Linked DNA regions of Homo sapiens: region 2 is linked to region 1. Evidence: fine-mapped expression QTL. A gene starts in region 1. The other region holds a variant in brackets. All regions are shown on one strand. Distances are from middle to middle. Region 1 holds the start of ITGA5 (integrin subunit alpha 5). Region 2 overlaps GPR84-AS1 (GPR84, ZNF385A, ITGA5 and GTSF1 antisense RNA 1).

The links. PIP is the estimated chance that this variant, and not a neighbour inherited with it, causes the effect.
Region 2: its variant is the best candidate, but not a certain one, in a credible set for the expression of ITGA5 in whole blood (TOPMed, PIP 0.88).

What each region holds. Positions count from the first base shown.
Region 1 is chr12:54,417,058-54,421,442 of GRCh38, forward strand. ITGA5 (integrin subunit alpha 5) reads right to left here and starts at 2,209. Exons shown (of 30, transcript NM_002205.5): 1 at 1,924-2,209. The coding sequence starts at 2,141. All of the region lies in intron 2 of GPR84-AS1 (GPR84, ZNF385A, ITGA5 and GTSF1 antisense RNA 1), which reads left to right.
Region 2 is chr12:54,443,878-54,448,262 of GRCh38, forward strand. All of the region lies in intron 3 of GPR84-AS1 (GPR84, ZNF385A, ITGA5 and GTSF1 antisense RNA 1), which reads left to right. Among named protein-coding and RNA genes, the nearest start is that of ITGA5, 27 kb to the left of the region's middle. The variant C/T (reference allele first, on the strand shown) is at 1,768.

The DNA of each region.
Region 1 (4,385 bases):
GGAAATGAGAGGGAAGGAGTGCAAGCTGGACACCTGGGTTCTCTTGGGAGGGGAGATGAGCAGAAGGGGAGGGGGAAGGGATGAGAGAGCTAGGTCCTGTTTTAGAAGAGGACTTTAGGGACTACAGGATCAGGCCAGGGGCCAGACAGACACCTAGGGGACCAGGAATGTGTGAAGTCCAGATGTTTTAGAGGAGTGTTTTAAAGGGAAATTTAGGGGAGGGGGGAGTAAAGAGAAGGTTAAATGCCAGACAACTAGATACTCTGATCTGCGGGAGGAGACCTCATCCCCTTCCTCCTTCCCTCTTTTCTACTCCATTAGGGCTGTGATAAGAAGTTTGAGGGAACCTGGGGGAGACCAGGCCTGGCAGAGGCTCCAGGCCAGGGTGATGATGCAATGGGGTTTGGGCAAAAGGCCAGGGGGGTGGGGTGGGGGTTGGGTGGGGACCTTGAATAGCCCAGAACAACAGTCGGGGCCTAATCATTTTTCTTTTCTCCCATCCCCAAGTCCTCCAGACAAAGGAGAATTTGCCTTTCTCCCCAGTTGTATTAGCTAGATTAACCCCTTTTCTCCAAAAACTATAGGGACTGAGTAGAGATCAGTTAACTGTCTCATGTGTAAAAACAGGTCGCTTCTGACAGAATTCCCCTCAAACCCTGAGATCCTGGGGTTGGGGTGGGGGTGAGCAGTAGGAAGCTCCCAGCTCAGAGATGTAGAAGAAAAAGGATTACACCAGTCATTGTGGAGGACCAGGAATCTGGCATCTATGGCCTAGCCCAGGAGCAACCACCTACCTCTCTTGCTTCCCAATCTCCCCGCCATCCCACATTTAAACAGACACCCTTGGTTCTAATGTTGCTTCCACTCTAACTCCTGTTTCCCAAGCCTGTCAGTACCCCATTTTCTAGGCACTCGGGGTCCGGGTCTGCTTATCACTGTGCTGAGTTGGGAATAAGGATCCTCCTTTGAGATTTCCAGGGTCCTGAGTCCTTCATTCTGACGTTCTTGGCCCCACGGAGCCCCCGTCTCCCCAGCTTCCGACCCCAGCCCCAGAAGTCCCGGTCTCAGCACAGCTCCAGCCGACCAGCTACAGGAAACCAGCTTTTCTCTTCCTCCCAAGAGCCAGAGGAAGAGGGAAACCGCCCACCCCCCTTCACGCGCGCACACACCCCTCCCGACACATCCCAGCACCCGCCCTTGGCTGAGTTCGCCCCCAGCCCCAGGGCCCCAGTGCCAGGGTCCCCGCACTCGCCCCCAGTTCTCGGATCCCCTCGCCTGAACAGAGATTGGGGGCGGAGGGAGGAGTAGGAGACAGAGGAGAAAGGAGAGGGAGCCGCCGTCCTCTCTCGGGTCTTTCCCCGGTCTGAGTTGAGGGGGGAGGGGAGGATGAGGCTGGCCCCCATTTAACCTTCCGACCCCCTCAGTCTTTGACTTTCCTCCTACTACACGTAGCTCATTCGGCTTCTACCCGTTCTCTCGCCGCACAATGGCCCCTACGGATCCCGAGGTCTCCTGGAGCCCCCAAAAGCCCTTCCCGGCCTCTGCGCCCCCTCTGCGCCCCCACCCGCCCCAGGTCCCAGCAGCCCACAGACTTCAGCCAGAGACCCTCAGCTCTCCATTCACGCGCTCTCCTCTCCCTTGGCCCGGAGACCCCTGCCCAGACTTCTCCAGCTCCGTGTCCTCTCCCCACCGGACACATGTCTCCCCACTGATCTCAAACGCCAGGGCCCCTCCTCACCCGCCACGGTGCCCTCCCTACTCCAGCGCGGGCCCCCAACTCTAGCCAGGGCCCCCAACTGCAGCTCTATTCCTTACAAACTCCACCCTCAAACTTAAGCCCTGGTCCCCTCCAGACCCCAGCCGCGCCCCCAGTCTCCAGGCGGCTCCCCCACCCCCATCCCGTCTCCAGCCCTCCTCACTCACCCGTCTGTTCCCGGCCGGTAAAACTCCACTGAGAATCCGAAGAAGGAGCCCGGGGGCCCCGAGAGTACTGCTGGGGCCTCCGCGTCTAAGTTGAAGCCCCCGACCCTGGGTGGCGGCGGCAGCAGCAGCAACAGCAGCGGCAGCAGCGGGGGTCGGCGCCGGGGGCCCCAGCGCAGCTGCACGGCGTGGAGAGGGGACTCTGGCGTCCGGCTCCCCATAGCGCCCGCTCTTCCCTGTCCTGGGGCCACCGACCCGGAGCCGCTTCCTAAACCTCCCAGAGGCGAATGACTCAACGCGGGGAGGAGTTTGCCAAACTCCCGGCTGAGCCCTCCCCCCGCCTGCCGAGGGGGCTGGCGGGGGGGCATTCCTGGGTCCCTGGAACTCTGAGCCCGCGTCCCCCACCCCTAAGGGGCGTGGGGGGGGGGCGCACCCCTCCAACCCCCTTTCCCCAGCCCCAGCTGGAAGCCGGTTGTCTGGACTGGGTTAGACTGGGCGGGTTTGGGTTCTTCCCCCTCCTCTCTGCTTCCCCCTCCTTCCTCCCCATTCCTTTCCAGATGTACAACGTAAACGCTCGGAAAACGAGTCGGAAAAGGGAGCGGAGAATTTCCTAATGAGGAAAGGAATCACCTCTGGTGGGCGGAGGAAGCCTGTATATGTGTGTGGGGTCTCCCTCAGTGCTTTAGGGAGGAGACTTTGGGGTCTAAAGAGACAGGAGACTCCTCTGGCGTCCGGCCAACTGGGATTCCCCCTTGCCTTCCGGGGCCGCCGGGTGCCTGGGTTCTGGCCAGCTGGATTTGGGACACAACAGTTGAGGTACAGAGACAGCGTTCGCAGTCAGCTTGCTAGAGGACCTACACGGGCTCCTCAAGTTCCGCTGCTTCCTCCTCCAAGCTTGCTAGTATTGAAAACCCAGGAGTTTGGGGTCATTCATCAGGAGGATTCTGCTCCAGTTTGCCCCCTTCTTGGTCCTAGGGTATGTAAACCTCTGCTGAGCCCCTTCCTTGGATCTGACAGTTGACCAAAAGCCTGCGAGTGGCTGGCCCCTCAGTACCTGCTTGATTAAACTGGCCGGGTTCCTACAAACCTGGAGAATTGTGAGAGGTGGTGGTGGTGGTGGAAAGTCTTGCAAAGGGACCCAACCTTCAGCTCCTAATGGCTGTAAACGCTGGGAGCTCTGGCCAGGCACGGTGGCTCACACCTGTAATCCCAGCACTTTGGGATGCCGAGGTGAGCAGATCACCTGAGGCCAGGAGTTCAAGACCAGCCTGGCCAACATGGCAAAACCCATCTCCACTAAAAATACAAAAATTATCCAGATGTGGTGGTCCGCACCTGTAATCCCAGCTACTCGGGAAGCTGAGGCAGGATAATTACTTGAACCCAGGAGGCAGAGACTGCAATGAGCCGCGATTGCACCACTGCACTCTAGCCTGGGTGACAGAGCAAGACTGTATCCAAAAAAAAAAAAAAAAAAAAAATCCAAAAACCAAAAACCAAAAAAACAATGGGAGCGGAAAGCCAGGACCCCATTCTTCCCAGATTCCCCTGTGGAAGTAGAGGAAGGGACTCTAGAAAGGGAAGGCAGTGACCCCCTGCCCACCTCTTCCCCAAGCTCAGGCTCTGTGTGATGAGATCACTTTTCAGGATTCTAGCCTTTATCTTAGTCTGGGGGAGGGGACTACAAGTCCTTTCAGTCTCTTTCCTCCAGGACTCCTCACTTTCCAGAATAATACCCTGTCAATAATATCCTGTCAACCCTGTCCCTTCTGTTCTCCAGTCCCCTGCCCCACTTCGGGCTGAAAGGCTCAGAATAAGAGTGCCCAGAGTCAATGTTTTTTTCCTGCCATGACTCTCCCCCTCACTCTGCTACTCCACTTCCTGTCCCAAATCACCCATCTGCTTTTTTAAAAGCCCCCCTCCAGAGCCAGCTGCAGCCCAAGGGAGAGGCTGGCTGGCCAGACTGTGGGGCAATGCTGGCCCGTATCCCATTCTCACATCTGCAAGTCCTGACCCTTTCTTAGGTGAGGAACCCAGGGAATCTCTGGGTCAGGATCTTTAAGCCCAGCATTGCCAAAAAGGCAACCTTTAGGTGAGAGCTACTCAAGCCATGGGCTGGGAACCCCCTTTGGGAGGAGAAGGGCTGAGGCCTGATTGCTTTTTAGCCCAGCAAAACACGTGTGTGAACCAAACACTCTCCTTTCTCAGTCTAGGCAAACTCTTTAGATTTTCCCAGGATTTGGGAGATTAGGGGTGGGGGTGGGGAGGGGTGCAGGGAAGGAGGTGTGTGACTCAGCTCCTCCCAGGAGCCTTGGTGGGGGACAGGGGACATAGCGTCCTGCCCCAGTCCTCCTCCCCACTCCACCCCTAGCCTTGGCCAACTCAAACAGGCCCCCTCCCTGTCCATTCCCTGCTCCTGTTTACACCGGGAGCCCCTTAGTCATTCTTTGGCTGGCCTTTCTACT
Region 2 (4,385 bases), 27 kb after region 1:
GTGATTCTCCCACGCTGGCCACCTAAAGGGTTGTGATTACAGGCTTGAGCCACTGTGCCTGGGTATAACCACTTTTGTCAAGTAGGTTTGCCTGTCCATTTAGTACTCAACTACTATAGTAACAGTTTTTTTTTTTGTGGGGGTGGTTTGGGGGGTGGTTTGGCATATGGTACATATTTCTCTGAGCTTTGAAAATAACTAATTTCCTTCCAAAAAAAAAAAGAGAGACTTACCTCAATCTTTTTTTCTTCTTTTTTTTTTCTTTTATTATTATTATACTTTAAGTTTTAGGGTACATGTGCACAATGTGCAGGTTAGTTGCATATGTATACATGTGCCATGCTGGTGTGCTGCACCCATTAACTCATCATTTACTTCAATCTTATTATGAAAGTAAACATTCAAAAACCCCAACACACCCTAGAGCAAACTCTCAATGCTCCAGGTACTGATTATCCAGTTTCCTTTATTCTCTCTTCTGTGGACCATGTACTTGGATGTTTACATTAGTCAGTAGCTCTATAAAAAGTCTGATATTACATATGTTGTTGGACTGTGTGGCAGTTTCCTGATCTCTAGATTGTAGCTATGGTGCTATCTTCTTAAACTTAGTATTCCAGTGGTCATCAGAGGCTGTAGCTCCTTTGGTGAGTTAGTTCAGTAGTGTTCTGAGAGTCATTCCTAGAGGTCTCACATATAGCCTGCTCCTTCAGCTATTCAAATGATTTTGTAAGTACCTAATTTTCTATATTAAATTCCCTTTCTGCTTAAAATATCAAGAGTGGTTTCTGTTTCCTTCTAAACCCTGAAAGATACAAGCATTAAGAAGCTAATTACAACACAACTCAGTAAGTATTATTAAAAAAAGAGTGAACGGGCCAGGCGCGGTGGCTCATGCCTGTAATCCCAGCACTTACATGCCTGTAATCCCAGCACTCATGCCTGTAATCCCAGCGGAGGCCAAGGCAGGCGGACACAAGGTCAGGAGATCGAGACCATCCTGGCTAACATAGTGAAACCCCGTCTCTACTAAAAGTACAAAAAATTAGCCGGGTTTGGTGGCAGGTGCCTGTAGTCCCAGCTACTCGGGAGGCTGAGGCAGGAGAATGGCGTGAACTCGGGAGGTGGAGCTTGCAGTGAGCCGAGATCACACCACTGCACTCCAGCCTGGGCCACAGAGCGAGACTCCGTCTCAAAAAAAAAGAAAAAAAAAGTATGAATGGGGAAAAGTAGGAGCATAGAACAGGGAACTTGGAAAAATTACTCCAGAGGTAACATTTAAGTTGGAATTGAAGGTGGAATAGGAATATGCTAAGCAGAAAGGCATTGGGAAGGGGAGGGAACAAGTGCATTTCAGGAAACAAGATGTGCTGAGGTATGGTTATTAAAGACCACCATATATTAGAAAGACGGTGAGTTCGCCATGGCTAGACTATGAATAGGATGGGGAGAGATGAGGCTGTAGCAATCATAAAATACAGTGGGGTTAAGAGTGCTGCCTTTAGGGGTAGCAGACATGACTCCAGTTCTGGTTTCTCCATATAGTAACTAAACAACTCTGGTCAAATCTTGTAAGTTTGAGGACTTTCAGCTTCCTTATTTATCAAGGAAGGACTTGTATCTTTACTTGTAGGCACAGTATCCACTTTATTATGTGGAATTAAATGTGACATGCATATGAAGTACATTGTATAGTACTTGGTGCATACCAAGTGCTCATAAGCCTTTGCTATTACTCTTTTATTTATTTATTTATTTTAGCCAGGG[C/T]CTCACTCTGTTACCCATGCTGGAGTGCAATGGTGTGAACACAGGTCACTGTAGCTTCTAACTCCTGGGGTCAAGCCATCCTCCCGCCTCAGCCTTCCAAGTAGCTGAGACTACAGGTATTTGCCACTATGCTTGGCTAAATTTTTTTATTTTTAGTAGAGACAAGGTCTCTTTATGTTGCACAGGTTGGTTGTGAACTCCTGGGCTCAAGTGATCCTCCTGCCTCAGCCTCCCAAAGTGTTGGGATTACCAACATGAGCCACCATGCCCGGCCTGCTATTTACTATTACTGGGTAAATTAAGAACAATTAAATATCATGAAAGTTGTGCTATGGCAGGTGGAAGATAAACTGAATGAGGAAAACCTAGTGGCTAAAAGACTAGCTGCTGCAATAGTTCGGGCAAAGGTAATGATCTGAAATAGAGTAGTGGTGATGGAGATGCAACGAACTGGTTGGCTTCGGAAGTCATCTTTGGTATTTAAATGCCAGGATTTGGTGGCTAATTGAATGTGAGGGAATTCTGAAAAGACTGAGAGAACAGTAACATCATTAATCTGGATTAGTCATGTACAAGGAAGGGCGAGTCTAGGTGACAGCTGAAGCTCTAATTCCCTTCAAGTCCAAGGCCCCTTTGAGGAAGATGGCTCCAAGTAATTCATTTTTTTTGAGACTGATCTCCTTGCTCTGTCGCCCAGGCTGGAGTGCAGTCGCATGATCTGAGCTCACCGCAACTTCTGCCTCCTGGGTTCAAGTGATTTTCCTGTCTCAGCCTCTCGAGTAGCTGGGATTACAGGCGGGCACCATCATGCCTGGCTAATTTTTGCACTTTTTAGTAGAGATGGGGTTTCACCATGTTGGCCAGGCTGGTCTTGAACTCCTGACCTCAAGTGGTCCACCTGCCTCGGCCTCCCAAAGTGTTGGGATTACAGGCGTGAGCCACTGCGCCCAGTGCCCCAGCTAATTCTTTCATGAACAACATTGATATGACCACTATCACAAGCATCACAAGAAACAATCTGCTACTGTTGAATGCTTCAGGGAGCAGGACTAAAACGGACCACTGGTCCTGCAAATAGGGGATTGGGTGGTGATGATGGTAATAGAGTGGCCAGATTGCAATGGATTAAGGAGTAAGTGGGAATTTAAGACCAGGTATAGACAACTCTTTCAAAAAACTTGGCACCGAAGTCGTAATTGCTTCAGTGGGAGTGTGAAGGATTTTATGTATTTGTTTGGTCAGAATGCACACTCTTCTAGTGTGCAGAAGCTGGAAAGCTAAAGACTAAATTTCCCACATTCTCTTCTAGCTAGCTATCTTAAATCACTTCTGAATTAAGTTCTGCTAATCAGATGCACTAGTGTTTCACTTGGATTCTGAAGCCAGCAGGGGTTAAGACGGGGTGCAGGGCATCCATTTAGGGATGCTGACAGTGGCAGAGGTGGTTACTTCTTGGACTAGCAGCTGCAATGGCAGCTTCCTAACTATTGTAGAAGCTTCTTGAATGTAGTAGAAGCTTCCTAAATATAGTAGAAGCGGTAGCAGCTCCTTTAGCAGTCTTTTTTTTTTTTTTGAGACGGAGTTTCACTCTGTTGTCCAGGCTGGAGTGCAGCTCACTGCAACCTCTACCTCCTGGGTTCAAGCAATTCTCATGTCTCAGCCTCCTGAGTAGCTGGGATTACAGGCACCCACCACCACGCCTGGATAATTTTTGTGTATTTTTCGTAGAGACGGGGCTTCACCGTGTTGGTCAGGCTGGTCTTGAACTCCTGACCTCAGGTGATCCACTTGCCTCGGCCTCCCAAAGTGCTGGGATTACAGGTGTGAGCCACCGTGCCCGGCCTGATTAGCAGTTTCTTTTTTGAGGCAGGATCTCACTCTCTCACCCAGGCTGGAGTGCAGTAGTAAGATCTCGGTTTACTGAAACCTCCGTTTCCTGAGCTCAGGCAATCCTTCCATTTCAGCCTCTTGAGTAGCTGGGACTGCAGGCGCATGCCACCATACCCCAGCTAATTTTTGTATTTTTAGTGGAGACAGGGTTTCACTATGTTGCCCAGGTTGGTCTCCAACTCCTGGGCTCAAGCAATTTGCCCACCTTGGCCTCCCAAAGTGCTGGTATTACAGGTGTGAGCCACCACGACTGGCCTCCCTTAGCAGTCTTTAGGAATCATTTCTGGAAGTCCAGTCTAGAGTTTGTTTCTTCAGCCTTCCCCAGAATTCTGTGATCCATCCATTTGATGCCCTAGTAATAAGTCCTTTACTGCTTAATCTAGCTAGAATCGATTCTGTTCTCTGCAACCAAACCCTGATTAATATGGAGAACAGGGTATATATTTTAAAAAATAAACATAAACATTTTCATAGCTGAAAGAGTTAAGGAAAGAGTAGAGTTAATTTAAAGAGAAGAGGGTTGGGTATGGTGGCTCACACCTGTAATCCCAACACTCTGGGAGGCTGAGATGGGAGGATCACGTGAGGCCAGGAGTTTGAGACCAGCCTGGGCAACATAGTGAGATCCCATCTCTACCAAAAAAAAAAAAGAAAAAAAAAAAAGAAAGAAAGACCAGTCATGGAAGGTGGGAAGATTGCTTGAGCCCAGGAGTTTGAGGTTGCAATGA